Linked DNA regions of Homo sapiens. The protein of the gene in region 4 purifies or fractionates together with the protein of the main gene of each other region. This does not show direct contact. Each region holds a gene or a part of one and is shown on either strand. Other genes may lie near its edges. The genes, in order: FREM2, MSRA, DHTKD1 and BMAL2.

Region 1 (6,114 bases), on a different chromosome or scaffold from region 4:
AGACAACCAGAGACTCTTCTTAGAGAGCAGGTACATTTGGGTGTTCAAGCTAAACTCAGCAGCCACTGGATCACTGACCTAAAACCAAAGGTAAAAGTTCTTTTATGCATCAGTGGTTCTGATGGTGCACAAACATACTGTTCACAGATACATACATTCACCGTACACTGTAGAACACTAAACACTGCATCGCAATTTTCACACCCTACCAAGCTAACTCAGAGAGTTGTAACATTGCTTTTGTCCTTGAGAAGGCAAAACTGGTGGGATCAAGTCATTTTTTGAATGGGACTAAACAGCATTGCTTGAGCTCATTTCCACTGGTTTATTGGGGTATATAAAGGACTTGTAAATATCATTGTCAGTAGAAGGCCAACAGTAAAAATTCTTGAAAAAAAGATGCCATCACATTTTTTATAATACATAATGGCAATTAGGTACTTTGAGGTGGTTTGAGCTACAGGATTTCATTCTCTTTAGAGAAGAACAAGAAAAGAAATGCAGAAGTGCGGGGAAAATTCTCAAATCTCCAAGACAGCAAACTTCAGGAGGACACAAGATAAGATCAGATAAGAAAAAAATAACCATTGCATACATTTAAACTCTGAATTTTACATCCTGTACTAACAACAGATAAAGGGCAAATCTCTCCTCATTCTTTTATCCCTAGCTTCCTTAACTGTCTGATTTCTTTTCTTTTCAGCATGCAAGAATTAAAGTCATTCACGTGTGGATTTTTTTTTTTTTTACTAATAAATGAAAAACAAAGTGGGATTCTGCAAGTCATAAGATAGTAATTCTATAAGCCACACCTGTTGGAATCGGATGTCAAGGTCAAAGGTGACAGGTTCTCTGGGGTTGCAGGTGACTGGCAGGCGGTATTCCTGATGTGATGGGGCAGTGCATGGCACCAGCTTCACAGTATAGGTCCCTGAGTAGTCACGTACCTTTGAGGAGAAGATATTGATATATTACATTTAAAAATCTGAGGTGTAATCAGATGGCAGCAGCAGAAGAAAATTAATTAAGAGTCTTAGTCACTTACGGCAAAGTCAGAGACAAAGCTCCACTGCTGTACTGGCTGGTTATAGGTTGGTTCACTCCTTATGAGGCGGAGGGAAAATGTCAGGCCTGGATGATCAGCTGACATGATCACTGAGCTTGTAAAGGATGCTAGGAAAGTGCCAGTAATTATAATAATGATATAGTGGTTCAATTAAAAGAGTGCATAACAGTTTAGAGTTTTCAAAATAAATGATCATACATTATTTGCTTCTGTTTTTATAAGAAGGCTGCAAAGCAGTCATGGTTAGTATAATTATCCTCCTCTGGCAGATGAAGAAACTGGGCTGTGAGTGACTGTGTGACTTTCCAAAGATCACACAGCTAGGATGTGACTTTCTGATTCCTACTTCAGTACTGTTTCTGCTCTATAGTTTTGTCAAAAGATAATTGTACAGAAATGCTCAAATTGTTCAGAGCTACTTTCTGGGGAGTCACAGCAGCACAATAAAGGGTGATGTGAATGCATTTATTGTGCACTGAAGTTACGAGCTGAACTTAAAATAGTCTATTAGTATCCACACAGCTGGGCAAACCCAATTTATGAATGGAGTCTGATTTTAGTTAGATTGCCTGCAATCATGGCTACACAAAGATTCAGTTTATTAGAAAGGTAGGCATGTAGAAGAAAACTGTATAGACCAGAAAATCCTCATTTTCCAGAACTGTCAAATACAATAAAGCAAAATGATTTTTTTGGGTTCTTTCTTTCTTGTAGCTCAGTTCCATAAAAATACAATGAAGCCTCTTTCTCTTCCTAATTATTCAGCCCTATTCTCTTTTGTTAGAGTTCAAGTCCAGAAAAAGAAAAGCTATAAAGATGTTGAGTGAACTATTTTCCCTTTCCCAATCTAATATAAGCTGGCAGAAAAATGGCTTATTTTTTATTTGACTCTCCATGTTACTAAACTGGTAATATGGAGAGTCAAATAAAAAATAAGCTCTTTCTAGTGAAATGTCCTTGTTAAAAAAAAACAAAAAACAAATGAAGTTAGACGTGGGATTTTATCGACTGCTGCCTTGTTGATATTCAAAGCACAGCGAATCACAGTTAGTAAAATTGCATAGCCAATACTTATTAAACATAATTAACATGTCCAAAACTTAAATATGAAAGTGAAGTACCTCCTCTGACCCTATTAAAAGGGTTTCTCACAGTACCTAGCAAAAAGCTGTGAAAAGAGAAGTGCTTGCTGAATGAATCATCTGCAATTCGATTTGTACAATGGAAGCAAAGCAGAGAAAGAAATGATTATTCCTATGCTCTTTAAGGAAAACTTTACTTAAAATGAACTCAATAGGGTTTCCTTTTAATTTTACTCTAATTATTTTGCATTTTCTCTGAAAGTCTGCATAATGATAATTTTGTGGATTATGAGGTGAAGCTGAACAATTATCAAGCTCTCATGGAGATAATCCCACATGTACAATTCATTTGAGATTAAGGGCTTCAGTGGTAACAGAGAAGCACGCTGAAATGTGTGAAGATGGAAAATCTACCTCCTTTTTGTGTGAGGAGTGGTTGTTAAAAGATAACGGGGCTTACCGGGATGTGACAGCACAAATAAGCCATGGAACTGAGCCTCTGTCTTGAAGTGCACGGCCAAGCGCCCCTCATCACCGATGCGCATGCTGGTTGGATAGAGAGAACCTATAATGGGGAGAGTACCAAGAATGAAAATATATGTAGCCAGAGACCCCTTATGTACAGATTCCTTCCAAAAATTAATTCAGGTTTGACTTGTCTTTAAACATTCTGGGCAAAGGGTATTATCAGAAGAATTCTGAATAACAGAGGCAGAAGTATCTTCATTTTCTTTTCTAAGCAGAAAAGGGAGCCAAAATGAATTATTAAGTAACATGAGTGAAGTCACTATGAAATACACAGATTACTTACAATAGACCAAGTTTTTTTAAAATCTGAGTTTATAAAAATGAAGCTGTAAATTGAGAGGCATGACAAAATTGTCAAAATGATGGAGATTCGGACATGTAAATAGAAATAGGTTTGAGTTATCCAGAATTATTCCTAATTTTATAGACTTAAAGAAACCTCTGAAGCTTTCCCAAGAAATTTAGCAGTTTGATAAAATTTGGCTCCAGAAATCAGATGGAAACAAGAGATCCTATGTGGAGGTTGGGAACCACAGAAAAATCCTCATTAAGATTAACTTAAATATACATCTTCTAAAACAAGACACGGACTTAAAACATTTGAAATAATTTGGAATCATAACTCAGGGTTATCATATTACCTGTCACATAGCTCTAAAATAGAAACTATTCAAAATGAAACATGGAGAAAAAAAGACAACAACAAAATGAACAGAGCATAAATAGGTTTTAATCCACTTAAGAGAGTAGATTTACATTTGAGGTGCACTATTAACTCTGTTTTCCTGCTGGCTAGTAAAATGCAGTACTGGCATGACACTATGGATGTTTGTGGAATCGGAACAGTAATACATGTCTGAAAAAGAAAAAGCACTCGTCCTACTAATGGATTAGATTGATGCTTGTGGACTTTGAACTATGAGTCTAACATGGAGATTGAAACCAAGTTTTGCAAATGCTCGCGAACTCGAACTAGTGGCATTCACAATCCGAGTTCGCAGACATTCAACTAAAGTACCCCAGAGTAATAGAATTTTACATCAGAAAGAGATATTAGAAGTTGTGTCTATCATTCAGAAAAAGTTAAGTCCCAGAAAGGTTAAGCAATATGCTTGAGATCTCACAGCTAGTTAGTTGTAGAGTCATGACTAGAATTCAGGCCATAATTTGTATTTAATTTAAATGCACCTCTTTTTTTCAGAAATAAAAATGTGTAACTTTTTCCCTTGGTCATTTCTTGCTTTCGTTGGAGCTTCCTCTATCCATTTTCTAGAATTCAGAAAAATATATATGTTGTGTTATGTAACACATAAATAATTAATCACCTAAAATAGATCGCAAGGATAAAATATCCATGAAATATATAAAGTCATATTTAATAATCACATATTGCACAAAATTTAAAGCCCTAATATGGTTTAAAGAGTTTTTTGATGAAAAAGGTGAAATTATCTTATTATAGATAGAAAATGAAAATATACTGAAATTTGCTAGTACTACTTTTAGCAATGGCAAAAAAAAATCGTCTTAAATAGTTTAAATAGGTTACAAAACTATAGAATTTTCCAAGTCTTCTGAACTCACCTTGAAGTTCAGCCTCTGGGGGGCTGCCAATTCCATCATTCCACAAGATGGCGGTGTCGTACACAAAAGTTAGACGAAGCTCTGACTTCAAGTCAAAATGCTGCCAGCCTCCTACCCCCACGGGGGAATGGAACACGTAGGAAACATACAGAGGGACTCGAAGGGTCACATAGGACTGCACTAGGTTTAGGACCTAAAACAACAAAATTACATCAATCAACATGACTCAGTGTTAACTAAGTGGGCCTAATTTTGTACAAGCCATTTTCTCTTTTCGCTTAACTGAAGATTTTGAGTAATCATTGAGAAGAGGAAATGACAGCATTTTATAACACTATTTTCCCCTCACTTAATTTTGGATCGATTAAATAGTTGTTACTAATTACCTTCATTGGCAACAAAGGATATGTACCAGAAATCCTTAAGACAGTGCATTATTTTGAGCATACTATACTTACAAAATCCTCTTTAGAGCAGTTTTATGAAGATAGTTTACATACCATGTAATTCACCTATTTAAAGTAAACAGTTCAATGGTTCTTAGTATATTTAAGGAGCTGTGCAACCAACACAATCAATTTTAGAAGATTTTCATCACCTCCAAAAGGAAGCCTGTACTTATTAGCAGTCACCCCCAATCCCTCCTCCCCGTCAGTCCCTGGAAACCACTAGGTCTTTATGTATTTGTCTATCCTGGACATTTCATATAAATGGAATCATACAAAATGTGTTTTTTTGTGATAGATTTCTTTCATTTAGCATAATGTTTTCAAGGTGCATCCATGTTTGAGCACGTTTCAATACTTAATTCCCCTGTTAATGAATTGCAGCCCATTGTATGCACATATTACATTTCATTTATCTATTTATCACTTCATGGCCATTTGGGTTGTTTCCAGTTTTTGGCTATTATAAAAAATGCTGCTATGAGCTACTTTTTTATTAAGGGAATATGAAACATAGATCTGGAAGCAAATATATTTACTAATAACATATAACATTTATAATATCTCAAGAATAATTAGTTGAAATGAAGTGTCTTGCCTTGAATTTTATACTTTCCTCCTTCTGGTGTTTAGCAGATGGGTTGGGAATAGTGGAGGATAAACTAATATTTATATATTGAGTACTTACCATATTTCAGAAACTGTACTAGTTTCTGAATAAACACTATTTAATATTTTCACTCTCCACCATAATTATTTTGCATGTATGGATGGATAGTTGGATGGTCAATGGATGACGGATAGAAAGAGACAAAGATAAAATTAAGACTCAAAGGAAAAAGGTAAATGTCCCACAGTATTCTCTAAACCTCCTGAATGGCTCGGACAAGATCAGAACTCAGCTTTTGGCCCATGTTTTTTTTCTATTCTGTCTTACTTCATCGTATTCCAAACAAAGATGAAGGCAGTCCTAAGGTCATCTAACAAAGGCTATCATATTTCATTCTCAAAATAGCTCTGCACAATAGTAGGACAAATACAACTAGCCTCTTCTACACAAGAGGAAAGGACTTAGGTCAGATCACACTCCATAGAAGTTTGAGTCAGGCTGTCTGATTATGGTCTAGTTCTCCTTCCACACAGCTCACAACAAGAATCACAGGCATGAGTTAGCAAATAATTTAAATCATGAGAACTATAATTTAGAACATTCTTATGAAGTTAAAAGTAAACTGCTCATGTCACAAAAATGATGACCTGAATCCCTAATAAAAATATATAGAAAAGAACCATCAACCAAACCAGTTATTTCATTCTTAGCTGTATAGTATAGTAGTTAGCATTCCCTCTTACCTGCTAGCCTGGCCAGCAGGAGAGGTGCTTTGCATTAAAAGTCCTTTGAGACAGT
Region 2 (3,500 bases), on a different chromosome or scaffold from region 4:
AGTTATAAATACTGCCTTTATAATTAAATACAGTGGGATGAAACAATTGAACCACTTTTTAAGTTCTTGGTTGGGGTTGGTTCCTGTGGTGCCCAGTGTAGTGTCCTGCCTGGTTGGACAGTTCCCCTCCCACCGCTCAAGTGGAGGAATCAGTTCCTCGGGTACTAAGCCCTCTCTTCTGCATTTTTTTTTTTTTTTTTTTGAGATGGAGTCTCACTCTGTTGCCCAGGCTGGAGTTTAGTAATGCAATCTCAGCTCAGTGCAACCTTTGCTTCCTGGGTTCAAGCATTTCTCCTGCCTCAGCCTCCTCAGTAGCTCGGATTACAGGTGCGTGTAACCACGCCTGGCTAATTTTTGTATTTTTAGTAGAGACCGAGTTTCACCATGTTAGTCAGGCTGGTCTCGAAGTCCTGACCTCATGATCCGCCCACTTCAGCCTCCCAAAGTGCTGGGATTAGAGGCGTGAGTCACTGTGCCCTGCCTCTTCTGCTTTTATCTCATTACTTTTCCCAAGTAATCTTATCAGCAACTGGGGTTTCATTTAGCAAATATAAGTTGACAACTCCCAATAATAATAAGGGTTCCTGTTTATGAGGTATTTACCATGTGCTAGGCCCTGTGTTTCACAAGCATTAGCCCAGTTAGCAGTCCTAACAATCCTCCCTGCAAGGCAGAAACAGCCCATGGCTCCTCCAAACAGCCCCTTGGATGCCCATGTCATGGGCACCTTAGACTCTGCACTTTCACAACTTAACTTACCTTCCCCACAAATCTGCCTCTGCTTCTCTGTACACTTGTACAAAAAATCACCAGCCATGACCTGGACCTGGACCTGTCCCTCTTATTGACTCTCCACTTCCAGTGAAGTTCCAAGTTCTGGTCTTTGTACTTCCTAAATATCCCTCCCTCCCACCCATACTTCCACCATCCTAGACAAAGCTTCCATTACTTCTGGCCCGGAATCCTATAATAGCTGCCCAACTCATCTCCCTGCATCCAGTCTTACTTCTCTTTAATTTCATTTATTCTAAGGTCATTGCTCTCTCTTTGAGCATCTGGAAAATGGGGATAATGGGGTCTCCCTCATCCTCATAGGTCTGCTTGAGTCAAATAGAACATATGGCTTTCTAAGTGTCAGGTACTTGATAATAAACTGCACAGATGACATGTGAATTGAGAAAATTTCATGCTAGAGACTGCATGTGTAACCACCACCATAAATGCCCAGGTTAGCCCACCACTGTTACAAAAGCCATTACGAAAAAGGGATAAGAGAAAGAATATATAGGTAAAAGGTTTTTAGAATGGAAATACAAGTATACTTAAATTACTCTAAAACTTAGCAGCTTCAAAGTATATACATTTATTATCTCACAGCTTCTGTGGCACAGCTTGGCTGTGTGCCTCTGGCTTGAAGTCCTTCATGACGCTGTAATCAAACTGTCAGGCAGGGCTGCAGTCTCATCTGAAGGCTTGACTGGGGTTGAGGGGATTCGAAGCTCACTCACATAGTTCTTGGCAGGCTTTTGTCCTTGTCATGTAAGCCTCTGCACAGGGCTGCTTCATGACGTGGCAACTGGCTTCCCCTACCATCTCTCACGCGGTAACAGAGAGTTTTCACAATACGAGCCACAATCTTTTAATGACCTAGTCTCAGAGTGCTCCCATCACTGCTGTCATTCATTAGAAGTGAGTTGCTAAATGCAGCCCATATTCAAGGAGATGAATTACATATGGGCAGAGAGCACTGGGGGCCATCCCACAGGCTGCCTACCATGACCAGCCAAGCAGACATCACCCTGGGAGGGAGGTGGGAGGGGCCAAGGAAGGAATGGGCTCTGTCAGCGCCTCCCTCAGGCCTCTCCGCTCATCATAGTCGAACTGACCTTGAGTCACCCGTCCTTCTACTTGCTCACCAGTGGACACTCTAGTTACAGCCTCCTCGTCTCTGCACTCATTCCTGGGGGCTGTTGCATACCTGACTTTTTACAAAATTCTAACATAGATTAGCTTTATAGTAGCTTCTAGCTCTACTGTCAAATGCAAATCCACATCAGAAAATATAATGATAAATAAAATACAAGTACTATCACAAAGTTCTAAAAACTAAAGCAAGTCAACTTGTTTTTAAAACAACTAAATCTCTATTGGAGGATTTTAAAAAAGGGTACACAACTCTGAAAATAATTATTTTGTGATATCATGTATATATTTCCGAGAACTACTTTTATCATAATTCAATTTACTGTTATGAGAAAGTGTTATGGGTTGAATCGTGTCTCCCTCCAAAAGATATGTTGGAGTCCTAAAACCTCGGAATGTGACCTTCCTTGGAGAACGGGTCTTTACAGAGGTAATTAAGTTAAACGAGGTCATGAGGGTTAGCACTAAGCCAATATGACTAGAGACTGTTTAAAAACAAGAAGCTTGGACAAAGAAACACACGCACATAAAACTAGGCTGATGTGAATATAAACATGGAGAAGACAGCCATCTAGAAGCCAAGGAGAGAGGCCTGGAACAGATCCTTCCCTTCCCTCACAGCACTCAGAAGGAACCAGCCCTGCCGACACCTTGATCTTGGACTTCCAGCCTCCAGAATTGTGAGAAAATAAATATCTGCTGTTTAAACTAACCAGGCTGTGACTGTTTGTTACAATAGCCCTGTAAAACTAATACAGAGGGAAGAAAAAAAGAGAGAGTTTCAGACAGAGACAGAAATAAAGAGAGAAGGAAAAAGACTTATTTTAACAGGCTGTGTCTTCATCTAGATGAGTGATTCAAAGGCAAACACATAAGGGCCTACTCTTTATTTTTTTACATTGAGACAGGGTCTTGCTCTGTCACCCAGGCTGAAGTGCAGTGGTGCAATCACAGGTCACTGCAGCCTTGACCTCCCAGGTTCAAACGATACTCCCACCTCACCCTCCCAGGTAGCTGGGACTGTAGGTGCAGGCCACCATGCCTGGCTTATTTTTGTATTTTTTGTAGAGATGGGGTTTCTTCATGTTGCCCAGGCTGGTCTCGAACTCCTGGCCTCAAGTATCCTTCTGCTTCGGCCCCCCAAAGTACTGGGATTACAGGCATGAGCCACTGGCCCTGGCCCAGGCCTACTCTTAAAACCTCATTTAGCACACGTATTAGACACAATGGCTCCACTCCTAGAGGCTGACAGAAATTTCTAAGAGATGTGCAAATAAAACACAATTCCAGTTGAAAAGCAGCAGACTGCCCTCTAAAATCAGAACCTGGCCCTAGTCATGGTGGCCTAAGCCAGGGGCTAGGAGCCCAGCAATCCCTACCTTTTGGTAGTTCTCTTTGGAGCTCAGGGCTGCCTCCATTTGCTTGGCAGAGGTCGGGTAGATGGCCGAGCGGTACTGAGTGCCATGGTCGTTCCCCTGGCGCATACCTAGGAAAGCAGAAAACAGGGAGGGTTACCCGGTCACTAGGCGACAGTGCCAGTCTCAAACTGGGCACAATGCTGAGACATTTTGACACTT
Region 3 (3,500 bases), on a different chromosome or scaffold from region 4:
TTATTTTTATTTTTTTGAGATGGAGTCTTGCCCTGTCGCCCAAGTAGCTGGGATTACAGGCACGTGCCACCACACCCAGCTAATTTTTGTATTTTTAGTAGAGACGGGGTTTCATCATGTTGGCCAAGATGGTCTCGATCTCCTGACTTCATGATCCACCCGCCTCGGCCTCCCAAAATGCTAGGATTACAGGCGTGAGCCACCACACCTGGCCTTTTAAACAAAATTTTTTAAAAATTTATTTAAAATTTATTTTTCTTTTGTTTTCTTTTCTTTTTTTTTTTTTTGAGATGGATTCTCCCTGTCGCCCAGGCTGGAGTGCAGTGGTATGATCTCAGCTCACTGTAACCTCTGCCTCCCAGGTTCAAGCCATTCTCCTGCCTCAGCCTCCCAAGTAGCTGGGACTACAGGTGCATGCCATGATGCCTGGCTAATTTTTTGTATTTTTAGTAGAACGGGGTTTCACTGTGTTAGTCAGGATGGTCTCGATCTCCTGACCTCGTGATTCACTCCCATCAGCCTTCCAAAGTGCTGGGATTACAGGCATGAGCCACCGCGCCCAGCCTAAAATGTGTTAGCCAGGATGGTCTCGATCTCCTGACCTCATGATCTGCCCACCTCGGCCTCCCAAAGTGCTGGGATTAAGGCATCAGCCACCGTGACTGGCCTAAAATTTCTTTTAATATGTGAGAAAAAAAAGTCTTTTGGTAACAGGACATACTGTCACCATTCAGGGCTATGTACAGTTGCAGTTCTTGAGACAGTCTTGCTCTGTCACCCAGGTTGGAGTGCAGTGGCACGATCTCGGCTCACTGCAACCTCCGCCTCCTGGACTCAAGCAATTCTCCTGCCTCAGCCTCCTGAGTAGCTGGGATTACAGGTGCACACCACCACACCCGGCTAATTTTTAGATTTTCAGTAGAGACGGGGTTTCACCATGTTGGCCAAGTCTCAAACTCCTGGCCTCAAGTGATCCACCTGCCTTGGCCTCCCGAAGTGCTGGGATTACAGACGTGAACCACCATGCCTGGCCTGGTCTTACTTCTTAAGAACTAAAGATACTTAAGTTCAGAACTTAATCTGAGATGATCAAAAGATGACATGTGGAAGACAGGCTCAGTACAAATGAATGGAACTGAACCTCTGCTGGGGCTGTGACCAGGACTCTGGAATGTCAAGATGGCAAGAAGCCCCTTCCTAATAGTTTGGGTAGTTGGATAGTTTGCAGCCTTGATTCATACCGTAGAGCCCCGTGTGAAAACTGGGGTACTGGGAAGAGGCAGCAGAAATCTAAGGCCTGGATTCCAGTCCAGAAGAACACACATTCTAAGGGGGTTTCCTTGGGGTGAGTTATTCTGCCGCTCAGGTTATTCTCCTCAGCCCCTCCTACTGTCCCGGATCCTAGGAAAACCATCCCGCTGTGTCCGTGTTATGTCTCTCTCCGGGATATGTAGTAAAGTGGCATTGCTGTGGCCACTTGGGGAGTGTGGGGCCATCTCACAACACACACAGACTTATCTGCCTTCCACTGGAGAAGCTGGCTGTCTCCTGGCAGCTCACGTCTGACATGATGTTCTGCAGGAGTTTGACCACTTTCTGGCCACCAAGTTCTCGACAGTGAAGCGATATGGAGGCGAAGGGGCTGAAAGCATGATGGGCTTTTTCCACGAGCTGCTGAAAATGTCGGCCTACAGCGGGATCACTGATGTCATTATTGGGATGCCCCATAGAGGGAGGCTGAATTTATTGACAGGCCTTCTGCAGTTCCCTCCAGAGGTAAGGTTACTCGCTGTGTTTCTCAGTAGCACTATATGATTGATTGTAACAGAATAAAACTGCTGGTTTCATTCTGGTGATAAATGATGGTGATGGTGATGGCCGGGCACTGTGGCTCACACCTGCAATCCCAGCCTGTTGGGAGGATGAGGCAGGAGGATGGCTTGAATCTAGGAGTTTGAGACCACCCTGTGGAACAAAGTGAGACTTTGTCTCTACCAAAAATAAAATAAGTTAGCCAAGCATGGTGGCACGCACCCGTGTTCCCAGCTACTCAGGAGACTGAGGCCAGAGGATCACTTGAGCCCAGGAGTTTGAGGCTGCAGTGAGCTATGATCTCACCACTGCACTCCAGGCTGGGCAACAAAGCAAGATGCTGCCTGAATATAAATAAATTTTTAAAAAGTAAAACTCATGGTGATCATTCATTTTAGGAAGTCAACTAAGGCTGGGCAAGGTGGCTCATACCTGCAATCCCAGCACTTTGGGAGGCTAAGGCAAGAGGAGTGCTTGAGCCCAGGAGTTCAAGACCATGGGTAACCTCGCAAAACTCTGTCCCTACAAAAATAAAAATTAGGTGGCATGGTCTCTACAAACATGAAAATTAGGTGGTGCACCTATGGTTCCAGCTACTTGGGAGGCTGGGATGGGAGGATCTCTTGAGTCCAGGAGATGGAGGCTGCAGTGAGCTGAGACTGTGCCACTGCCCTCCAGCCTGGAAGACAGAGCCAGATCCTGTCTTAAAAAAAAAAAAGAGGAAAGGCAACTAAGCATATGAGCAGTTGGTCCAGGAGGTAGCTTAGACAGTTTAGTTAATTGACAGAGTTGGTATTTGGATTGGTTTTCCATGTATACTTACTTATTTATTTATTGAGACCTAATCTCGCTCTGTCACCCAGGCTGGAGTGCAGTGGCGTGATCTCGGCTCACTGCAACCTCCGCCTCCCAGGTTCAAGTGATTCTTATGCCTCAGCCTCTCTACTAGCTGGGATTACAGGTACCTGCCACCACACCCAACTAATTTTTTGTATTTTTAATAGAGACGGGGTTTCACCATGTTGGCCAGGCTGGTCCCGAACTCCTGACCTCAAGTGATCTTCCCGTCTCAGCCTCCCAAAGTGCTGGAATTACAGGCATAAGCCACCACTCCTGGCTTTAAATTTTCTTTTTTGTTGTATGATTTCAACTCAGCACTTCTTCCCTAGACTCCATTGTGATGAATGCCATTTTTTTCCTTTTGAATGTATCCACAATAGCTGATGTTCCGTAAAATGCGAGGCTTAAGTGAATTTCCAGAGAATTTCTCAGCCACTGGAGACGTCCTGTCTCACCTGACCTCCTCTGTGGACCTGTACTTTGGGGCGCACCATCCCCTCCATGTGACAATGTTGCCCAATCCCTCGCACCTGGAGGCCGTCAACCCCGTGGCCGTGGGCAAAACTCGCGGCAGGCAGCAGTCTCGCCAAGACGGCGATTACTCTCCAGACAACTCAGCCCAGCCGGGGGACAGGGTCATTTGCTTACAGGTACTTGGAGCTTCTGAAATTGAGGCCAGAGGTGGGGAAAACTGGGAAGAATGTGTGGGTTGGGAGGGCTGAAAGCACATGGCAGACATTCATGATGAAACTGAGATGACCTTTTGGAAAAAGATTCTGGGATTGTTTTAAAAACTAACAGGAGATTCATGAGGTTTAGTCTTCAGGCAACTGGCTTTAGCCTGGGGC
Region 4 (6,114 bases):
AAATTAAAAAATGAAAAAAACCTTAACTATTACAGGAATCAATTGTTTTATATTTTACATAATTATTTGGTACTAGGCATTTTCAGAGAAGAAAAAAATACTTATACTTCCCAAACACAATTATACAAGGTCTTTCATACAGAAAAGACCTAATCCATATAAAAAAGAGAGTAATTGTCTTTTAGCATATAGCTAAATAATGGGAACTTCAGCAATTTTTTATCCAAATGATACTTTCTTGTAAAGATTTTATTTGCATATGAAAAATAGCAAATATGAAGCACTCATATTTTCCCCAAAGCATCTTCATATCAATGAATTTGTGTTTGTATATGTCTGTATGAATATAGGAATTTTCTATATAGCTATATATATTTATTAAGTATGATGTAAAGTTTACAAAACAATTCTCTCTTGATAAAAGCTTAGTTAGCTGTTTTAAAAACACTGTGTAGCTAAACTTTTAGGTGATCATTACATTTACATAAAATAATAAGCATGCGGAAATGGACACTTACTTTTGGCATCTATTAGCTTTTCTCTTGGTGAAATATCAAAAGAAGAAAGTTGTTCCTTTACTTTGGCAACATCTTTTGGATGTAAGAAGTCAAATAAGCTTTGTCCAGTCAAACTAGCCTATTCATAAGGTAGACATTCATTTAAAATCAGTACCATGCTTTTTCTACATTTCTTGATGCATACAATAAATGTTCTTTTTTGATTTTTGATTGATTTTTCTCAAGCTCAAAGATATGTCCACGACACTGTGTGACATGAACTTAATGTTCAAAGCAGGGTGATACTTGTAGACAGAAAAAAATACATGCGTATAGAACCATCCCTGGATATACACAAACCATATACAAACACCAATTGCTAGTATTCTGCTAAATCTTGTAACTCTTGTTAACATGTTACTTGTAAATGATTGTGATTTACTTTGAACTTTTTTTGTCCTTGTTAAAAAAAAGAGATTACATCATAGTATAATATAGAAATCACAGAATATCTGTGACTTTATCAGATATTTACCATACAGTTTAAAAAATTACCATACTATTGATAGGTAAAATCCAACCCAGAATACCTCTCACTTCCCATTCCACCACTCCCAAAAGGCACAGCATCCCCAGGTCTATGCCTTTGCTGATACAGTCCCACCCCTCAGAATTCATCACCCCTTCCCTATCCCTTGGCCACTCCAGCCAAATTGCCTTTGACTCCCTAGACTTCCGGGACTCCCTTCTCCCAGGTTGAAATGTTTCCTCCCCTTCTCTACACCTTCCTTCTGACAAGCCTGGCAGACATCCTACTTCATGTGTGACGCCTTCCTGACCCACAGTGGCCACCCCTCTTCTGAATTCCTGTATTACCCAAGCAAACATTCCTATAGACAACAGGACTAACGGACCAGCCGATATAAGCAGGCTGAATTGTTTGGCGGTTATATGTTTCATTCTAAAAAAAACTGTGTGGTTAATATAAGTCTATATCCAGAACTCTCTAGGGCAGACCAAGTTTCTGAATCTGAAAAGCTGAGGACTAAATCCTGAATCATGGGAATCCCTACATGCCCCTGAGCAGCCAGTAAGTCTCTTAATAGCCTCTTCTATGCAAAGTCAGTGCCCAGTAGGACTGGATTCCATGTCACTAACTTGAAACTTAAGTGGTACCCTAAACTGTCAGTTACCTGTGTGTGTGTGTGTGTGTGCGTGCATGTGTGTGTGCATGTGTGGGTGTGTTTTCCATCTCCAGTTAGAACGTGGAATCATGAGGTTTGTGCCCCCAGCTATAACCAGCTGAAGGTTTCATCGGTTTTCAATCCTCCTGTACACAGGCTCATAATATTCCCTTATTTCTGTTATTTAACTCATTATCTCTGAACACCCTTATAATCTAATGTGAGTTATTAAAAAACAGTGCTGCAGTCTATCGGATTTCTAGTGCTAGTTTATTCACTTACTTGGGTTAGTTTCAATGCTATAATTTTTGAGTAGCTAGTTTCCATGAAATGGTGTTCAGTAATAAGGAGGTGAAGTACTAAACTAGTTAAATGAAAGATGTATTTCAGAGAGTGTTGCCAGAGATTAGATCAAAGGCTGTCATGCAATGATTATAACTTAATAATTAACCATAAAGTGTCTCTTGGAGGGAACAGAGAAGGGTGACTAACACTTTTCAGACACTCTTAAATATGACACCTCATTTAGTCTTTACATCTTGAGAGACAGGTATAATCATTTTGACTTTTTACATAGGAAGAAGCTGAGGCTCAGTAAAATTAAGTAACTTGCTGAAGGTCAGGAAGGGAACGCAATCAGTCATAAAGATCCTTACTCTTTCCACACAGCTTTCCATCTCTCTTGGAGTTCTAACTTAGCAGAATCTAATCCCATATCCCAGTGGGGAGAAGGTGTTCAGAAAAAGAGCTTAAAAATATGTGTTTGTTCAAAAAATTAAACATTGTATGGAAAATATCCTCATTTTTGGATACCTGATCATAATTAAGTATTTTGGAGACTGACTTAGAAACGAAGAGAATTTTTCCTCTTTCACATCCAACCACAAATAAGAAGCCTTCTGCAGTCTAGGATTTAAAAAAAAAGTGAATATTTTAAAATATTGTCTGTCTCTTATACACACGCACACACACACACACATTCAGATTCTGAGGAAATTACTGTGGCAATAAAACTAACAGAGTAGTCATGGAGCTAGTAAAATTAATTTTAAGAAATGTTCTTAAGATGCAAACAGATTTATAAAGAGTGTCAAGTTGAAATCCTATTCTAAATTAATGTTTTGGACATGAAAAGTTTGGCTGCAGAATATTTAGTTGAGACATTTCTTAAAAACTAAAATTAGGCCAGGTGCTGTATATGAGCCTAAATACAGCACTAAATGAGCCTATATCCCAGCACTTTGGGAGGCCGAGGCAGGTGGATCTCTTGAGCTCATGAGTTTGAGACCAGCCTGGGCAACACTGGCGAAACCCTGTCTTGACAAAAAATACAAAAATTGGCCGGGCATGGTGGTGCACGCCTCTAGTCCCAGCTACTGAGGAGGCTGAGACGGGAGGATGGCTTGAGCCCGGGAGGTGGAGGGTGCAGTGAGCCGAGATCGCACCACTGCATTCCAGCCTAGGCAACAGAGCCAGACCTTGTCTCAAAAAATAACAATAAAATAAAATTACCTTTACCAAATTCTACTACACTGCATGCAGAACAACAATTGCCTGTGGATGTGTTGAGGTAGAAGGACAGGGCAGAATGAGGACAGGGAAGCAATGAAGACATTATACTGTACACCTTGTTATAGTTTTTGAATAATAAAAAGGCATCACTCATTCTAAACTAATGTGTCAGCTACTCTCATAAGGTCTACCCAGCAAATCCCATGAAGCAGCCTGCATGGAAGCGGGTACATATGGCACATAGGAAGAGTCTGGCACTCTTGCTGGGCATGCTCTGCAGGGCAGAAGCAGGGTTCCATGAAGGTACGACTGACGAGCATGTACAGATTGGTGAGAAAGCTTCGAAAGCAAATCGTACATTTTGCCACCTTCAAAAATCCTTTTTATCCACACAATATCCTTTCTATCCCTGCCAGAAATGCTATATTTAAATTCAGCTGTTCAAATAAAAGAGTGGCTTTTTTTAATTAAAGGAAAAATGGACAAAAATGTGTATGAAGAATCCTTCTATTTAATTTGACTATGGCTTAAAACCTAGTAGTCACACAGCACATGACCAAGACATTTATCACCTCCGAGGGCATGAGAAGCAAATCACATGATCACAGTTTCCCCTCTAGACCGGTGAATCTGAAAAGCCATGCACAGGAATGATGAGGACGGAAATGTCAAAGCACTAACAACTCTAAGTAAGCAGTGACTGGCCTCCGAGAAGAACAGGATCCTGAGGGAACAGGATGCCAGGCAGACGGCTTTGAAGGAGGTGGTGATCATGGGGGAGTAGATCCTATGTGTGAGAGATGGGTAGTATAAAATGCTTAGCACTGAATACAAGCTTTGCTCCATAGTGTGGAAAGTGCCTATCCTCTGTCTCTACTTTCATTAACACAAACTAGTAATGCATGGCTACTTCTCTATTTTAAACTTCTATATTAAAGGAAATACGGTGTAATATGGAGTCCCATATGTTTAGAACAGGAAGCAAATGGAAGAAAATCTGCCTCCTATTCAAACAGCAATGAAAGCACATACACAACTTAGACAAATATATCTTTAGTTACCTTAAGGATTAAATGTCTGAGCTCATTATCCTGAAGAAATGATGGTCTATAATTACTTCCCACATAAGAATTTGTCAAGCCTAAAAAGAAAGGCATCAAGAGTTATTGGAAATATAGTAGAGAGGGCAAAATGCTTAATGAACATTAGCAATGCTGCTGCTGCTGGTATTTGCTCTTTGGCACATTCTAAGACATTTTCTGTAATCATTTTTTTTTTCATTTTCATTTAATTTAATTATTTATTTTTGAGACAGAGTCTTACTCTGTTGCCCAGGCTGGAGTGCGGTCGCGCAATCTCAGCTCACTGCAACCTCCACCTCCTGAGTTCAAGTGATTCTCGTGCCTCAGCCTCCTGAATAGCTGGGATTATAGGCGCATGCCACCACGCCCAGCTAATTTTTATATTTTTATTAGAGACAAGTTTTCACTATGTTGGCCAGGCTGGTCTTGAACTCCTGGCCTCAAGCAATCCACTCACCTCAGCCTCCCAAAGTGCTGGGATTACAGGAGTGAGCCACTACGCCCAGCTAATCATTTTCTTTCTTCATTATCACTTGATTAAAATTTCTTTCTTTTAGATTGTGAATTCTTGGAACTACTTATTCCTTTATATTCAAATATGCACATTAAGAGCTATATATAAAAACATTATAATAAAATGTACATGAAATAAAATTCAAGGATTGATATGCAGTAGTCCCCCGTTAGCTGTGGTTTCAGTTACCTGTGGTCCACCATGGCCTGCAAACAGGTGAGCACAATACAATAAGATATTTTGAGAGAGCCAAAGACAGAACATATAACATTTTTACAGTATATTGCTATAATTATCCTAGTTTATTATTGATGTTAATCTCTTAATATGCCTGATTTATAAGTTAAACTTTATCATAGGTATATGTGCATAGGAAAAAAGTACTATGCCTAGGGTTCAGCACTACCCACGGTTTCAGGCATCCACCAGGGTCTTGGAATGTATGCCCCTATGGATAAGGGGGGACCACTACAGTTATTTAGATAATGTCTTAGCTAATTAAAATTTATCATATGAGTTACCTTGAATGGGGGTATTCTGGAATTCTAAACAAATGTTACGGATTCATGAGATTTTCCAGTAAGAAAATCCTTTAATGGCAATATAGAGACCTCTATTCTGATAATACACAGATTATTTTAAAAATGTATAAAATATAAATGAAATAATTAATTTTCAGCCCTTAGCACTGAGTTATATTAAAATGAAAGTCTCTAAAGCAGCTGAAGAGCTTGCAAAATGATGAGGAATTATCAGGCCAAAACCAAGGGAAATGTTTGACCTGGGAGGAGTAAGGGAATCCACCAACCCAGATTCGCAAAGCCCTTCATGGCCACAAGGGGGCGTATGACACAGACGACAAAGCCAAGCAAGCCATCCCCAGGGCAAGGATGATTCAGAAGTAAGTCAATTTTCCCTTCCTTATATTCCCCAACCTTCTTGACTCCTATCCCTTCTTCCTGGGTACTGTAAGAGAAGTTGCTTTTGCAGGGGAAAGGTGGGGTAACATCCTTAGACATTTTAACCACACATTGGCCCTCGGACGGATCTGTGGCCCAAACTCACCAATGAACTAAGTGGTGGTGGTGGTGGCAAAGTAAGTGGGCAGGGCAGAAAGACAAAATGCCTCATGCTATGATTCAGTACAGTTTTCTCAGACTCGTAGCACTCTTAAGAGCCTGGCATAGGGAAAAGAAAATCTCTTCTGTTGGAATCTATCTTCATCCTAGGGCTCAGGGAATTCTCCCAATGACTTCTTGCTAATATTACTACACAGCAGCTTGGGAGGGAGCTGAGGAAGGAATGAAGAACGCAGACTCTGAGTG

What was found.
Region 1: the proteins of BMAL2 (region 4) and FREM2 purify together in Homo sapiens (affinity purification with mass spectrometry; one large-scale study listed by BioGRID and IntAct). This does not show direct contact.
Region 2: the proteins of BMAL2 (region 4) and MSRA purify together in Homo sapiens (affinity purification with mass spectrometry; 2 studies listed by BioGRID and IntAct, with this or other methods). This does not show direct contact.
Region 3: the proteins of BMAL2 (region 4) and DHTKD1 purify together in Homo sapiens (affinity purification with mass spectrometry; 2 studies listed by BioGRID and IntAct, with this or other methods). This does not show direct contact.

What each region holds. Positions count from the first base shown.
Region 1 is NC_000013.11:38,871,081-38,877,194, reverse strand, and holds part of FREM2 (FRAS1-related extracellular matrix protein 2 precursor), read right to left. Parts: intron 4,454-6,114; coding exon 4,261-4,453; intron 2,714-4,260; coding exon 2,609-2,713; intron 1,174-2,608; coding exon 1,046-1,173; intron 948-1,045; coding exon 813-947; intron 79-812; coding exon 1-78. UniProt on the Homo sapiens protein: Extracellular matrix protein required for maintenance of the integrity of the skin epithelium and for maintenance of renal epithelia. Required for epidermal adhesion. Involved in the development of eyelids and the anterior segment of the eyeballs.
Region 2 is NC_000008.11:10,319,792-10,323,291, reverse strand, and holds part of MSRA (mitochondrial peptide methionine sulfoxide reductase isoform a precursor), read right to left. Parts: intron 3,410-3,500; coding exon 3,303-3,409; intron 1-3,302. UniProt on the Homo sapiens protein: Has an important function as a repair enzyme for proteins that have been inactivated by oxidation. Catalyzes the reversible oxidation-reduction of methionine sulfoxide in proteins to methionine.
Region 3 is NC_000010.11:12,085,954-12,089,453, forward strand, and holds part of DHTKD1 (2-oxoadipate dehydrogenase complex component E1), read left to right. Parts: intron 1-1,581; coding exon 1,582-1,776; intron 1,777-3,032; coding exon 3,033-3,302; intron 3,303-3,500. UniProt on the Homo sapiens protein: 2-oxoadipate dehydrogenase (E1a) component of the 2-oxoadipate dehydrogenase complex (OADHC). Participates in the first step, rate limiting for the overall conversion of 2-oxoadipate (alpha-ketoadipate) to glutaryl-CoA and CO(2) catalyzed by the whole OADHC.
Region 4 is NC_000012.12:27,383,701-27,389,814, reverse strand, and holds part of BMAL2 (basic helix-loop-helix ARNT-like protein 2), read right to left. Parts: intron 4,335-6,114; coding exon 4,255-4,334; intron 2,588-4,254; coding exon 2,495-2,587; intron 637-2,494; coding exon 519-636; intron 27-518; exon of another isoform or gene 1-26. UniProt on the Homo sapiens protein: Transcriptional activator which forms a core component of the circadian clock.